2 separate regions of the Homo sapiens genome follow, and region 1 is linked to region 2. The links come from fine-mapping of genetic effects on gene expression. Tissue or cell type: esophagus muscle. Region 2 holds a variant in brackets; the other region holds the start of a gene. All regions are shown on one strand. Distances are between the middles of the regions.

Evidence for each region. PIP is the estimated chance that this variant, and not a neighbour inherited with it, causes the effect.
Region 1: it holds the start of LINC01300, and the variant in region 2 is fine-mapped to the expression of LINC01300 in esophagus muscle (GTEx, PIP above 0.99). The same link has a PIP of 0.9 or more in gastroesophageal junction.

The regions. Positions count from the first base shown.
Region 1 is chr8:141,336,879-141,344,980 of GRCh38, forward strand. It overlaps LINC01300 (long intergenic non-protein coding RNA 1300), which reads left to right and starts at 3,671. Exons shown (of 4, transcript NR_024441.1): 1 at 3,671-3,794; 2 at 5,463-5,598; 3 at 6,080-6,337; 4 at 7,466-7,743. RefSeq lists a silencer at 1,852-2,146 and an enhancer at 5,295-5,795.
Region 2 is chr8:141,376,460-141,384,561 of GRCh38, forward strand. It overlaps LOC101928037 (a long non-coding RNA gene), which reads left to right. Exons shown (of 3, transcript XR_007061125.1): 2 at 1,463-1,587; 3 at 5,621-5,850. Among named protein-coding and RNA genes, the nearest start is that of PTP4A3, 12 kb to the right of the region's middle. RefSeq lists enhancers at 1-95, 96-870, 7,664-8,102. The variant G/C (reference allele first, on the strand shown) is at 3,743.

The DNA.
Region 1 (8,102 bases), 40 kb before region 2:
CACAGCTGAATGGAGGTGAGGACGAGGGCCCACGGGGCTTGGGGCACAGTGGCTGCCTCTGCTCAGAGACAGCTTCCCAGACCACACGGCGGCCCAGCTGTGTGTGGGAGGCATAGGAGCTCTCCTGAGGAAAGGCATGGGAAACAGAGGGAATAGCAAGTGCGAAGACCTGGTATGGAAGTAAGAAGTGACCGGAGTGTTGCTTGGGGGTGGTGAGCAGGAGGCAATGCATCAGGCAGGCGGAACCCTGCCCCTCCCAGGCTGACCCCAGCCAGACGGGGAAGGACCTGGGTCCCTGCTGTGGGTGGTGAGTCCCATACATGTCCCTGCCCACCCTGTCATCCTGCAGGGAGCAAACTGATCCCAGAGGGGGTGCCCAGCCCACGCCGTGCAGCACCGCAGGGGGAACCCAGCGTGATAGAGAGCAGTGTCTTAGACCTGGCTCCAGCGCCGAGGCTGCGGCCCAATCGAGGCCGGGTCCTTCCCCTCGAGACTTCAGCCTCGGCTCTCCTGGACTTCAGGGTGACATCACCAGGGTGTTGGGGGTCTTCTGTGATCCTCCTACGAATACTTCTTTTTTTTTCTTTTTAGAGACAGGATCTTGCTCTGTTGCCCAGGCTGGAGTGCGGTGGCATGATCACAGCTCACTGCTGCCTCAACATCCTGGGCTCCAGCAATCCTCCCGCCTCAGCCTGCTGAGTAGCTGGTACTACAGGGGTGTACCACTAGGCCTGGCTAATTTTTAAAAATTATTTATAGAGACAAAGTCTCCTATGTTGCCCAGGTTGGTCTTGAACTCCTAGGCTCAAGCAATCGTCCCGCCTCAGGCCCCTGAGTAGCTGGGTCTATGGGTGGGCACCACTATGCCTGGCTAATTTATTTACTTATTTTTGTAGAGACGGGGTCTCACTATGTTTCTCAGGCTAATCTTGAACTCCTGGGCTCAAGTGATCTGCCTGCCTCAGCCTCCCAAAGCACTGGGATTACATGTGTCAACCACCGTGCCCTACCCACTTCTGTTTTATTATTGTTATTATTATTTAAGATGGGATCTCGCTGTGTCACCCAGGCTGGAGTGCAGTGGCACGATCTCAGCTCACTGCAACCTCCACCTCCCAGGTTCAAGAGATTCTCCTGCCTCAGCCTCCTGAGTAGCTGGGACTACAGGTGTGCGCCTCCACGCCCAGCTAATTTTTTGTATTTTTAGTAGAGACAGGGTTTCACCATGTTGGCCAGGCTGGTTTTGAACTCCTGACCTTGAGTGATCCGCCCACCGTGGCCTCCCAAAGTGCTAGAATTACAGGCATGAGCCACCGTGCCTAGCCTGTTTTTTTTTTATTATTTTTAAAATTTTATTTATTTATTTATCGAGACAGGGTCTTGCTCTGTCGCCCAGGCTGGAGTGCAGTGGTGCAATCTCAGCCCACTGCAACCTCTGCCTCCTGGGTTCAAGCAATTCTCCAGCCTCAGCCTCCCAAATAGCTGGGATTACAGGTGCCGGCCACCACGCCCGGCTAATTTTTGTATTTTTAGTAGAGACAGGGTTTCACTATGTTGGCCAGGCTGGTCTTGAACTCCTGACCTCAAGTGATCTGCCCGCCTTGGCTTCCCAAAGTGCTGGGGTTACAGGTGTGAGCCACTCCTGGCCTCACTTCTATTTTTCAAACCGAGGGTGATGCTTAACCCAAGAGTAGGTGCTGTCAGGCCGAAACATCTGTTCTGGTCCTTGGCTGGCTTTCCCAAGGCCCTGAGTGTCCTAGGGCCTTGTGACTTCCTCTGTGAACTGGAAAACAGCCCCCAACTCCAGTCCCTGCCTGGCTAGGCTTGCCTGAGCAGAGCAGAGGTGAGAGGCAGGAAAGATCCAGCAGCCTCAGAGCTGTGAACGGTGCCAGCCCCGTGATTGACATGTCAGCCGCACTAATAGTATCGCTTCATCTCTCCAGACTCTCCCTTTCCCGGTTTGTCCACTGTTCTGTTTGGAAATAAGGTTGTGCCCTTAGTCATACCTTGATAAGAAGGGAGACGCCCCTGCCTGCCCTCTCTCTTCTGTTCCACCTCCTCTGCCGAACGTTCAGGAGCTCCTCATTCAAAAGACCGTCAGATGAAATGTTTGCTAGAGATAACACTGTGAAGCATTTAGAAACACCTTGCACCAGCCTACTTCTTAAATACTTGTTAAAAACGAGATCACACCCCAAATAGAGTTTCATAGAATATACCTTTTTTATTTTTCATTATTTTTTGAGATGGAGTCTCACTCTGTTGCCCAAGCTGGAGTGCAGTGGCGCAATCTCAGCTCACTGCAACCTCTGCCTCCAGATTTCAAGTGATTCTCCTGCCTCAGCCTCCCAAGTAGCTGGAATTACACGCATGTGCCACCACACCTGGCTAATTTTTGTATTTTTAGTAAAGACATGTTTTCACCATGTTGGTCAGGCTGGTCTTGAACTCCTGACCTCAAGTGATCTGCCCACCTTGGCCTCCCAAAGTGCTAGGATTACAAGCATGAGCCACCGTGCCTGGCCTCTTTTTTAAATCCAGTTTTTATTCAGCAGAATGTTCCGAAAGATCCAGAGGGTAACATGTGGGCAAAGTCCCTGAGCCCTGGCTGGGGTGGCCTGGGTGGGGTTGCCTTCCTCCGACACCCAACTCATGTGGGCCCTGGGCGCCCAGCACCGGGTTCCTTCCCCCCAAACCCATCTCATCTGGACTCTGGGCACCCAGCGCCGGGTTCCTTCCCCCAGGCCTTGAGCCTGGCTTTGCAGCTCCTGCTGCCCCAGGGCAGGTGGTGGTGGCCGCCCAGCCCTCACCCAGCCCCGAGTCCTGTGTGGAAGGCGATTCCTCCCACTTTACCGGGGAGGACACAGAGGCTGAGCGTGGTCACGGCCGGAGCCCCAGCGCAGCATCTGAGCTGCAGGCTGGCCGCCCCCCACCCCGCTGCACCCCCATATTCCACTCACAGACCTTCTTCCTGCTGAACACAGCTGGGCCCTGACGCCTCTGTGCCTTGGCCACAAGGCACCTTCTGCTCACTCAGCTGTCCCTCCAGTCCCCGTAGGGCTGCAGACCCAGGCCCACCCAGTCACAGGCCTGGCAGCGAGGGGGAACAAAAGGGTCAAGGGGCCGCCCAGGGCTGGGAAGGGCCTTGCTCCACCTCGCTCTCCTCCATTCCCCGTGTGGGCCTCCGTCTCCCATTCTGTGAAATGACCCGTTTGGGCCACAGGGTCCCCAAGTCCTCTTGGCTTGGGGCCGTCTGTTCCAAGAGGAGGGGCCATATTGGTCCTTGAGGCCCCTGCGGCCCAGTAAGTCTGCAGTGAGGCCTCCCTGGACGTATATATCAACAAAAAGTCAAACTCCGTAAAGTGTTTGAGACATTTATTCTGAGCCAAAGATGAATGGCCGGGGGCCCATGACAGCCCCAGGAGACCCTCAGACCATGTGTTCAAGGTGGTCGGGCCACAGCTAGGTTTCATACATTTTAGGGGGACACAAGGCATCAATCAATACACATAAGCTGTACATTGGTTACGCCTAGAAAGGCGGAACCACCGGAAGCGGGGATGCTTCCAGGTCATAGGTGGATTCGAAGATTTTCTGATTGGCCGTTGGTTGAAAGAGTTATTGTCGGTAGATAGGAATGTCTGGGTTAAGATAATGGGTTGTGCAGACCGAGGTTTCATCATGCAGATGAAGCCTCCAGGCAGCAGACTGCAGAGAGAATGGATGGGAGATGTTTATTATCAGACTGAAAGACTGTTCTGCCAGTCATTCCAAAAGGGAGGGGGGATAACAAGGTATGTCCGTCTCCCGCTTCCCACCGTGGCCTGAACTCGCTTTTCAGGTTCACTTTGGAATGTCCTTAGCCAAGACGAGGGTCCGTTCGTTTGGCTGGGGGTCTTAGGATTGATTTTCTGGTTTCCATATGCAATGGGAGTGGGGGAGAGATGGGGTGGGGGCAGCCTGAGGCTCAGCCCTGGCCAAGGAAGCCCCCTCCAGGCATTGGCCAGGTTCTGACTCCTACAGTGTTACAGCCGGCAGGGAACTTGGACCCACAAGCTCCTCCCCTCCCCAAGCCTCAGTTTCCTTGTTTGTAAGATGATGCCTGGGGTCCTTGCTTCCTTGTAGGGCTCAAACAAGATCCCAGGCTCTATTAGGAACAGTGCCAAGGCAGGGGGCCCCCAACAGCTCAAGCAGGCTGGAGTTTGGTGCTCACGGAGTAGGGGAAGCTGGTGGCTTCTCAGGCTCATGACATTGTCCCTGCAGGGTGCAGGGCTATTCCCTGGTGGGGCTGGGGGTGTGTGTGGCCATTGGCAGGAGCCCCGATGTTCTCATCCATGAGTCAGCAGAGATGGGAACATCAATTTATTTGAGTGGCTGGTGCAGCCGAGTCCTTGGAGGACAAGGAGTTTTTGCCAAGCCTGGGCCGAATGTGCCAGGGCTTGGGGCAGGGAAACTGTGTCCAGGGACACAGCTTCAAGGGCCCCTGGTTGATGTCCCCAGGGCCTGCTGAGTGCCAGGCCCTGGGACTCAGAGAGGACACCACCCGATGCAGGCCCTGGGACTCAGAGAGGACACCACCGGATGGAGCTGCCCAAAGGGAGTGCCAGTCGGATGTGGGGGTGGGGGAAGAGGAGGGACCAGGATGTGACGGGTCCGAGGTCTCACGGGGTGCCCAGGTGGGCTGGATTTACAGAGCATGGGCGGCCTGCAGGACCATGAAGGGGCAATGGGGGCAGAAGACAGAGGTTGGAGGCAGGGTGGCATGGAGGGTCTCGGGGCAGGGGCAGGAGGGTCTCCAGGGTGGTCAGTCTGCTGCAGTCAGCAGAGGGCACTGGAGGGGCCTGGGCTCAGGCTCCAGGTAGAGCTGACCTAGCCCAGAATGGGCAGGTGAGGGAAGGCCACCGCCTGGTGGGCTTGGCTGTCCCCTCACCTGGACCCCATCGCCGGCCTCTTCCTTGCACGGGGTAGATGCTCATTGATGTGGTGACGTCTAGCAGGAGGATGGCCCTGGGCAGGGCTGTGAGCTGGGAGACCTGGGCTGGGATCTCAGCTTTGGGCCCACACACTGGGATGGAGGAGTGTTTACTGCTGTCTCTGAATGGCTGCAGGAAGGCTGAGGGGGCACATGGTTGATGGGCCAGGCCACTCTGGGCACAGTTGCTGAGAGTCGGCTCTTCCTAAGTGGGGGCACCCGGGGTGGTGGAAGGGAGTCAGATGCCAATTCCCAATGGGTCCTGGTGGTCGTGCCCTGCTGCAGGGCCTTGGCACCCGCCGCCATAGCCATGGAGTCCAGGGGGGCCCCCAGGGGCTGGAAAGGCAGGGAAACAGATTCTCCTTGGGAGCCTCCAAGGAAGCCAGCCCTGGCTAGCACGTCTGTGCTCTGTCTCTGGCTTTGCCTGTTCTGGACATCTCTGGAGGTGTGAGCACCATGTGGCCTTTCGTGTCTGGCTTCTTTCACTTAGCACGGTGGCTTCAGGTCCCTCCGCATTATCGCATGTGCCAGTGCTTTGCTCCTTTTTACACCTGAGTAATCGTCCACTGTGGAGTCATCCTTTCAGCTGCTGAGAGATGCGTGGGCAGTTTCCACCTGCAGCCATCGTGAGTAGTCGGGTGAGGCTGCTGAAGCAGACGAGTGAGGGCACTGCCCGGGCCATTTGGGCTGGAGCGGGGGTTTGAACTCCTCTTTGTGGGACGGAGGCTGTGTTCTTGCCCACACCTCTCCCTGCTCCAGGCCTGTCTTCCCCTTGGGACTGGGACTATGACTTGGTGGCTTCAGCCTCCGCAGGGTGAGCCTGATCCTGAGAGTCAGGCTGGGCTGAGGAGGACGGGTGGGCCTCCTGGGGGAGGTGACGACTTCGGACTGGACCTTGCAGGAGGGATGGGCTGTCTGAGGATGGGAGATGGGAGGAGGTATTGCAGGTTGGGCAGCAGGTGAGGCTGAGCTGGGAAGGGAGGTGGTTGAGGCTGGTTCTTGGGCTGAGTGCTGGGGAGGGGTCGGCCGGGGATCACCGAGAGGTCCCTCCAGGCTGCATGAGCAGAGGAGACACCCTACGGGTGATCTTCTTGCCTTTGTTTCTAGAATTCACAAATCCTACAATTCTAAGCTCTCAGAACCCTTGGATCTGAAGGTTCTCAAATGCTAAGGTTTCTAGATGTTAGCAGACGAAGGTGTCAAGACGCATGGGATCTACGATGCAGAGTTCTGAGTGGGGATATGCGTCCCCCACCCCGACTCACCCCACGACACATATCAGTAACAGCCTCTGCAACTCCGCCTTGGTGCCCCCGCACGTTCCAGGGGCAGCCACACTGATGGATTGCTCAGAACGGGCTGGAGGTGAGATGTGTTTGCCCGGAGCCCCCACACACTGTCGTCTCCAGCTGTGCCTGTCCCTCCCCACCTTCCACTCTGTGTCTCTTCCCTGCCCCCCTTGTGCCCCAGCCCCAGCCCCCCCTGTTCTTTCCTGCCACCCAATCCTGTGCCCCACGACAAGGAGGCTGAGCCCAGGGATGGCCAGGAAGGAACCCCCGGCAGGCTCTCAGGGTGGGAGAGAGGTTGTGGGGATCAGGGGCTTTGCAGAAGGGACAGGGAGGCAGCCCAGAGCACCCCAGCTTCTTGGCCAGCAGCAGGTAACCTGGCTGGAGGGCGGGGCCCCCATGGGCCATCCCTGGGCCAGCTGCCCAGGGCTACCAGGAAGGCAGCTTGTTTTGTAGGAGGTCAGGCAGCGCCCTAACCCCACCTCTTGTCTTCCCTGATGTCACACCCCAGGGTCAGCCCCTTGGGCCAGAATGGGGGTGATGGTGGGAACCGGGAAGCTGAGAGAACAGGGAGGAGGCCGGGTGGGGCACACCAGGCTGTGGCTGTGGGGATGGGGAGATTCCTCGCCTGGGCAGGCCGGGCAGCAGCGGGGCAGTCCTGGGGGGTGTGGTAAATGCTTCTGCTCTCTTCCCCTGACTACATGGGAGCCTCCGTCCCACCTCACCTGGAAAAGGGGCTTGGAACTGGGCTGCTCGGCCTTGGGCACACCAAACGGGGCCCTTGGAGCCCTGGGCTTCCTGGGGTGGCTGGGTCCCCACCCTGCCTCTGATCCATCCTGAGTCTGCATTTCTTCTCCAGGTGCCCCCTGCCCTTGGCCTCCCACCACGGCCTGGGAGTAGATAGTGGGCTGGGGCAGGCCCAGCGCTGTCCTCTGTGGGAAAGGAGGACTCTGGGCCTGGAAATAGTTGAGTGTGGACAGAAATAACCCTGACTGGCCTCAAAACAGAACATGGAAAATTAAATAGGGAACATTAGCATTCACCCCGCGCTTGCCACAGCCACTGTCCCATTTGGGAGGCGGGCGCGCTTATCCTCATTTAGAGACAGGGAAACTGCGGCCCAGAGAGGGGAGGTGACCTTCCTGAGGTTCCTCTGCCAGCCGGCCAGGCCCTGTGACCCCTGTGCCTCTGTGCTTCCACTACACAGCCGCATCTCCACTTCTGCCCCGACAGTTCCTGCTGCAGCAGATGCCCTTCCAGATGCAAACTCCTACGCATCCTTCAAAACCCAGCTAAATGTCACTTCCTCCGGAAAGCCTTCCCCACCTCTCTAGCAGGCAGTTGAGCCCAGCTTACATTTCCGACAGGCCCTCACTGCCCGGGATTGCAGCTGCGGGCTCCTTGAGGGCAGGGATTGTCCCTCATTCATCCTGATTCCATGCCAAGGCTTATAGTAGGTGCTCAATAAATGCTTGCTGAATGATAGATGGGCTGTGTGTGGTGCTAAGTTGAATGCCTTGTCCCTTTCCCACAATTTCATCTCAACCACCCAAGAATTTAGCGTGAGTATGGCTGTTTTACTAAGGAGCAAACAGGCTTACAGAGGTGAACTCACCTGCTCCAAGGTCACACAACAGTCAAGGGCTGGACCTGGGATTTGGTCCCAGCCCCGCAAACACAGCCCCACTACGTACCTAGCATGGGCTCAGGTAGGCCCTAGGGGTGGGCAGTGTATCTGACCACTCGTCCTGTCCACCTTCCCCTGCACCTGTGGCCCCACGGACCCCTGGGCTGGCTCTCAGGTGTGGCATCTCCACCTTCCCCCACAGGCCCAGAACCCACCC
Region 2 (8,102 bases):
TGGGTAGGGCAGGCACATTCCTGGGAGCGGCTGAAGCTCAGGGAAGAGGTGAGGGAGGCTGGGTAGGGCAAGCACGTTCTCAGGCTGCAGGGTGGCTGCCCATGGCCGGGGTGCTTTTGGATGGCCAGCTCCCCGGTTCCCATCCTGCTCGGGCCTCTGCTTTTGAAGAGGGTCATGGTGAACGTCTGGATTTTGGGCCCTGTGTTCCCTCTGATGAGCTGGACTCTGGGCTCCAGTCCCCACTCCCCCCGCCCCCCACCCTGCTCTCAGGAAATGAGCCTTGTGCCCAGACTGGGCGCCTTCCCTGACCCTGCGACTCAGGCCCTTCTCTGTGGGGGGCGTGAGAGCCTTGAGCCTGGCAGGAAACTAGGTAGCAGATCCACAAACACAAAGGGACAATTGGCCGTCATGATAGCGATGGTGGTGACGGCAGTATCTTCATGACAGTGGCCCCGCAGCAGGGCACGGAGCCACCTTGTGCTGTTCCTCACAAGGGCCGGCCATGGGGTGCAAGGGCTGCAAGTGAGAAACTCTGCAGACCCCAGCCAGACCTGGGGGAGCCCCGTCTCCAAAGGCCCTGCTTGGTGTGGCAGGTGGGATTAAGGTTGGCGGTCGGTGGAGGAGCAGGTGGGGCTTCCTGGAGGGGAGGGAGGAGAGACCCCACTGGTGGGTGGTGGGAGGGGCAGCAGGTCTCAGGCGGGAGTCACGGCTAAAGGCCAGTTCTGGGTGGGGCCTCCTATCACTGCGGGCAGGGGCAGGACAGCTGGGGATGGGCTACTGAGGGATCGTGTCTAGAAGCAGATGGTTGCTGTGTCCCGCCTGTGGGTGTCTGGGGAGTGGGCAGACTGGGCATGGTCATGGGTAGGGAAGGGGGTGTGGCCCTCTCAGACCCAGCAAAGACCCTGGGGTCCTGGCCACCAGTCCAGCCTCTGTTTCTACCAGACACCTGTGTGTGGGACAGGTGGACAGTCAGGTCATTTGAAAATATTCTCCAAGAGGAAGCTCTTAGAATCTTTCGTCCCTTTAGCTGGGGTGGGTGGGGGGGCAACATCCTTTGATTCAGAGTTTTGGATCTGGGGTCCTGGGCAGCTCCAATGGCTTCACGAACCCCTAGACTTTGTGTGTGTGCAACTGCCCATGTGTGTGCCATGAGGGTCCATTGGGACTGTGAAGGGTCTGAAAACCCACGTGGGTTAGAACCACGGTGTGGTCCGGCCCCGTTCAGTGCAGATGGGGCAGGCAGCCCCCAAAGCCACGCTGAGAGTTGGAGAGTTAGAGCCAGGTCAGCTGTTGGGAAGGGCTTCTCTGCCCCCATGCCCCAGACCCTCCTTCAGGGGCAGATTTCTGTCAGAGAGACTGGGATGGGCCTCAGATGAGCCCCATCAACATCCAAAGAGAAATGGATTGTGGAAGATCCGCCTCACTTGTCCAGCTGACCATGTGTCTATCTGTCCTTCTCCAGGACCCTGGCAGAGAAGGCTGCCGGGGGGCCGGCCACCACCGTGTGGGGTTAGTTCCAGGCAGCAGCGTCCCGGTGGCTTTCATCCTTCACCTTTGTACATCCTGGCCGTGTTTGACATCTTTACGGTGAGCTCGTGCCGTTCTATAAACATACGTCCTTTTCTTCCTTAAAGAACAGCAAAAAGTTGCCTGGAGTGACTGGAAGCAACCCTCGCAGGACATTAGCAAGGATTAGTTCTGGGCGGGAGAAAGCAGGTGACTGTTAATTTCTTCTTTCCACTGATTTGTATTTATTATTAATTTATTTAAAAATTTTAATACAGAAACCCCTCTGCTCTCTAATTGTTCAGTCACTTGCATATCACCATCAGGCCTGTACATCAGTAGAGGCAGAAATGTGTAGCTTAATGCCAACTTCCCTTCCCAGGTTGTGGGTGCAGGGTGACAGGAGGAGAGAAGCCCTGGCGCACGCCTGCCTCATCCCTGGCTGGTCCTGGGCAGGCGTCACCAATCAATGAGGCTCTTGCTCCCCAGGAGCCTGGATGGACACCCCCTCCCCGGCCCTCTGGGCAACCGGCCCAGTGGACCAGCAGAGCAGGCAACATGGCCCCGACTGGATTGGGTCCAGACTCCTTAATTTATCCATGAAGAACCTGAAGCCCAGAGGCATAGTAATTGCCAAAGTCCCACAAGTGTTCAGGGCCAGGCTGCCCCTGGCTCAGTGTTCTTCCTGCTGGGAGCTGGGCCATGGGCTCTGCACTTCCTCACTCTGCATTTGGGTCCATCTGGTTGGGACTGCCAGGCAGGGTGAGGGAAGCCTCCCAGCACTGTCCACCGTCCGGGGGAATACTTAATGTGTCATGTCCTCCACCTGGGCAGGGGCAGGGCAGGGGTGAAACACCTCCCTGCCCACCAGAGCTGCCTCCCCCAGAGTCCCAGACCCAGGAACCAGCCCCCGCCCCACCCTGAAGCCTGCCAGGACCCAGCCCTTACCAAGGGGCCCAGGGGTTGTAGCTCAGAGGCGTGGGATGCGGACCCCCGACCACCTAGCTGGCAGGGGGCAGAGTCCGGACTCAGACCCAGGACCACCCATGCCAGCACACAGCCCCTTCCCCACAGGCGCCTGTGGAGCAAGTCAGGAGGCAGGACACAGCCTTGAGGACTGCAGGTCTGATGAGGACAGTATCTGCCCTGGGGACCCTGATCTGAGGGAGGAGGCAACAAAAAATGACTCATCAACGGGGTGATGGGGACATTTTGGGATGGCAAATTTGGATCTCAACCCGGGCCCCACCGCCTCCCACCAGAAGCAGTTACTTAGCCTCCCTGTGCCTCAGTTTCCCCATCTGCATAGTGAGGACAGCAATGTTTGGGGCCGTGTGAGGAGTAAATGAGGCAACAGTTGTGGTTTGGGTCTGGTCCGTGGCTGTGTGGGGTCAAGTGAGCCCGTGTGTGCCCATGGCTGCCTGTGCATCAGAATCACCGGGAGTTCCCATCAAACACAGACATCCGGGCCTGGCCCAGGGAGGCTGACTTTAATGGTCTGGGCAGAGACCTGGTCATCAGCACTTTTTTTTTTTTTTTTTTCCGAGACAGAGTCTCATTCTGTCTCCCAGGCTGGAGTGCAGTGGCGTGATCTTGGCTCACTGCAACCTCCGCCTCCAGGGTTCAAGCAATTCTCCTGCCTCAGCCTCCTGAGTAGCTGGAATTACAGGTGCCCGCTACTATGCCTGGCTAATTTTTGTATTTTTAGTAGAGATAGGGTTTCACCATGTTTGCCAGGCTGGTCTCGAACTCCTGACCTCATGATCTGCCTGCCTCGGCCTCCCAAAGTGCTGGGATTACAGGCGTGAGCCACCGTGCCCGGCCGGTCACAGCATTTTAAGGACTCTGCCATGATTCTGATGTGCTGCCAGGGTGGCTGTGCCTGAGCCGGCCTTTGGCTCTTGCGCACACACTGAGATGCCGGTTCGAGTGGATACAGGGGGTCAGCCCACTTGTTTCCCACGGCCAGCCTCCAGTTGGGCTCACATTGAGTAACTGTCTGAGCCCAGTCCCAGGTAGACATCGTCAGTTTCCACGTGTTCCTTCATTCACTCAGGAACAAATGGGCTTTACTTTATCCGAGGCCTTGTAGATAATTATTTTTTCCCTCTGTAAACCAAGTCCTGCTTAAATCCCATCCAAATCCCTCCAGCCAGAGCCCATGCTGCCTGCGAGCCTGCTCCCCATCTCCGGCTGAGCAGGTTTGTTTAAGGCTGGGCTGACACTTCTTCTCCCC[G/C]CGCCTTGGTGTGTTTACACTGGGGCCATCAGCAGAAACTGCAGGTGCGGCAGGGAGGCTGGAGACAGGGCAGGGACCATGGGGGTTTCAGGGCGTCCTTTCCACACAGTGTCTCAGGTCGCCCTGTTCCCAGCCTCGTCCTCGTTCTCGTTCCCACAGGCGAGGCCTTGGAGGTCACTCAGGACAGGGGAAGTGCTGAGGCGAGGCCTCAGGCTGCTAAGTGGAGTGAGCCCAGGAAGGCTTTTTGAGTGGGGGACGCCCGAATTGGTTTTCTGTGAAGACCAGGGAGCAAACGTGCCTGCCATGGAGTGAACGGCAGGACCCGCAGGGAAAACCTCAGGCAGCGGCTTGAAATACCATGGCCGTCCATGGAGGGGGCTGGTCAGATGCTGGCGGTGTGGGCAGAGGAGGCTCTGGGCCACTGCCTGAGTGTGAGTCCTGCCACCACCACCTGATGGCTGAGTGACCTTGGGCACGTTACTTAACTTCCCCATACCTCGGTTGCCTCATCTCTCAAGGGAGTAATCATATTAACTTCTCAGGGTCATTGCAAGGGTGAAATCATCTAGAGACACAGAGCCTAGAATACCATACTCAGGAGTTTGTGCTCTGCCCTATAGGCAGTGGGGAGTTATGGCGAGTGGTTGAATAGTGCTGGAGCTGGGCTTTCTGAGGGTCTGAGCTCCCAAAGCCTTTTCTGTATGGCTGGGTTGTGAGGCTTTTATATTGTCACTGCTGACCAATCACAGATTGGCTACCCTTCCTCCTGGCCAGTGATTGGTTTAGGGTGGGTTAGCCTAGCCAGCTTTGGGCCAATGACAGGTGACCAGAGGCTTATTGTGGGTTCTGAGCTCCCTCCTGTCCCCGGATAGACAGGCAGCCTTTTTGTGAGCATGAGGGGAACCTGCCTGAGAATGATGGTGGGGAAAATCTTAGAGAGGCACAGCTGGGTGTGGTCACCCTGTCCTGGAGCCCACAGTCCCTCTGCACTTCCCGTTATGTGAGTTCCTAAATTTCCTCACTGGGAAGCCTGGGATTCTGTCACTTGCTTCTCAAAGTACCCAGTGTCCACATGGCAGAGTGTCCTCCTAGAGCCCACATCTGATTGCATCCCTCCCTGCTGAAAACCGTCAGGGGCTCCCACCCCTTGATGAGGAAGCACAGTGCTTCACCCCATAGCCTGTGCCTCCCACTGCGGGTTCTGCCGGCCCCTGACTGTCCTTGAACACACCAGGCACACATCTGCTGTGGGGCCTTCGCGCTGCTCCTCCCTTGGCCAGGAGCATTCTTCCTTTAGGCCGGTCACTGCTCACCTCATTGAGGGCCGAGCTCAAATGTTGGCCCCTCAGGGCAGGTGGGTGGCCAGGACCATCTGGGTTTGCTGCAGCCACACACACCCCTGATTCTTCTGTGGCCTTATTGATGGAGGTGTGGGTCTCGCTCACGCCATGAATTGCTGGTCGGTGTGGTGGGGGATGGGTCTCTTGCTCCTTGGTGGCTCGGGGACCTGAATGACAGAGGCTCCGCCATTGCCTGCAGCCGGTGCTGTCTCAACACAAGGCCTCAGGTCCCCTGTGGTGGGGGAGAGTGGAAGAACAGGGCACCAGTTCCTAAAAGCTTTGTCCCTGAAGTGTCCATCACATTCATCTCTTCTACTCGCATTCCAAGGACCACAGTCAGTGGTGGTGGCCATGCCTAATATGAGGGGGCATGACCCCAAGCCTGGAAGGGGCCTGGCACACAGCAGTGGCTTCCTGGCCATCCAGTCCCCGTGAGCGGTCTCTCCCCTCCACAGCGGCGTCCTGTTCTTATTCGGGAAAAAATGCACATAACACAAAATTCACCATGTTAAAGTATGCAACCCGCCTTCATTCACAGGGTGGAGCCCCATCACCTCTGCTTCCAAAACATTTCCATCACCCGAAATGGGAAACCCCATTCCTCCCGCCGAGCCCTGGCAACCAACAATCTGTGCTCATCTCTATGATGTGCCCACTCTGGGCATTTTGTATAAATGGAATCATGTGATATACAGTCTGTCGTGTCTGGCTTCTTTCACTCAGCCTCATTTTCTCAAGAATCGTCCACACTGCAGCCTGGATCAGAGTGTCCTTCCTTTTCATGGCTGCATGCTATTCCACTGCTGAGATGTGCCACCTTTTCTTTGTCTGTTCATCCAGTGATGGTTGACGGACATTTGAGTGTTTCCTGGCTTTGGTCATTGTGAACAGCACTGCTACGCGTGTTCACATACAAGTTTTTGTTTGAGTCCTGGCTTTTTTTTTTTTTTTTTTTTTTGAGATGGAGTCTCGCTCTGTCACCCAGGCTGGAGTGCAGTGGCGCGATCTCGGCTCAATGCAAGCTCCGCCTCCCTGGTTCAAGCAATTCCCCTGCCTCAGCCTCCTGAGTAGCTGGGACTACAGGCGCCCAACACCACGCCCAGCTAATTTTTGTATTTTTAGTAGAGACAGGGTTTCACCATGTTGGTCAGGCTGGTCTCGAACCCCTGACCTCGTGATCCACCCACCTCGGCCTCCCAAAGTGCTGGGATTACAGGCGTGAGCCACCACACCCAGCCAAGTCCTGGCTTTTAATTCTTTTGGGTAGATACCTGGGCCTCATCCCATTGCATTCCTTCTATAACTGATCCCCCTCCGCAGTTACTTGCTCCCAACGTGCCTCTGTTTCCCTCTCTGTGAACTGGGCATGTTGCTGATCTCCAGTTATGAGCAGTGTCTCTCTTAGGTGGTGTGTTCTGCAGGGAGGGGAAGCAGCCGCTGCCCCTGCACGCGCCTGGCCATGCTCACAGCATCTTCCCGTCGCTCCTTGACTTGTTCACTGACCCCTCCCTGATGTGGCCGGAGGACGGGGCCTGGTATCACCTTGTCCTGTGCAGGCCTGACACGTAGAAGGTGTTTGGCTGATGCTTGCTAGTATAGGAATAAGCTAGTTCTCTAACCTGGAGTTCCTCCCTGTGAGGTTTTGTTTGCAAGAAAAAATCTGCTGCTAAGCCAGCTGTGGAGGCACATGCCACAGTCCTAGCTACTCTGGAGGCTGAGGCAGGAGGAGCGCTTGAGCCCGGGAGTTTAAGGCTGCAGTGAGCCATGCTCGCACCGCTGCACTCCAGCCTGGGCAACAGAGCCAGACCCTGTCTCTTAAACAAACAAACAAACAAACAAACAAACACCCTGCTGCTAAAACATGTGGAAAGTGTGATGGACGCCACACTGGCAGTTTTGCTTCCTCAGCCAGCACCTCCCACATGCTCCCAGGGTCAGAGGTCAGGGATCAGGCTGGCTCCTGGTAGGGGGCTCTGTGTGCCCTGGCAAGTCGCCCCTCCCTGGGCCAGGAGCGAGGTGAGGGTGTCCACAGCAACAGGCTGTGTTTGGACACAAGCGGGGTGGGGCTGCACCACACGGGGCTCTTCCTGTGCCTTATAAATCAGCTCCCAAGAGCATTCCCCAAAAGGAGTTTCAGCTGCTCCCGAGCCCAGGACAGCAGGCTGGTCTCCCCTCCGGTGAGAAATCTCCTCTCCCGTCTACCACCCCAGGAGTTCCCCAGAGAGGCTCGGTTATCCTCCAAGGAGGGGATACTCGCTGCCTTGCCGAGATCGGAATCCACTTTTGCCTGTTCTCTAAGCCCTGCTGGAGATGTGGGAGTGCCCCTGCCCCACAGCCTGTTCCGAACTCACTTGGGCCATCGCCCAGCTCCAGCCTGTCTCTCAGTGTGAACCCCGAGAGCATCTTCTGCACCCAGGTGGATGGGTGGCTAACAGCATGGGCATCAGGGGCTCCTGGCTTTGCTTCCCCGCGCCTGCATTTCCTTGCTGTTTGGCTTTGGGTGATCTGCAGGAAGGAGGACTGCCACCGCCATGGCACGCGCCTGGCCTCTCCACTGGCACCTTCCTGTTGTTCCTTCCCTTGTTCGCCAACCCCTCCCTGATGTGGCCGGAGGACAGGGTCTGGTGTCGCCTTGTCCTGGCACAGGCCTGGCAGGCAGAAGGTGTCTGACTGATGCTTGCTGGATAGAGGAATAAACTAGAGCTAGATCTTGGGGCTCCCTGTGGGGTTTTGTTTGCAAGAAGAAATCCCCTTCTCTGCAGCTCCCTGGGGCTCTGTCATTGCAGAGGGGGACTGGGATGACTGGGGAGGCACGCGCCCTGCTGAGGGCAGCCACTTCTCCAGCCCAGCAGGCTGTAATCCGACATCCACAGGGATTATCCTGGTAACTGGTGGTGCATGGCCCCTGTGCTGAGAGGGCTGCAGTGTGCACGCCCCGTTTAGAGCATCGTATGGGTTCAGCATGTGTCCGCGGATGGGTGCTTGAGGAGCACCTGTCAGACGGGTGCCTGTCAGGCCAT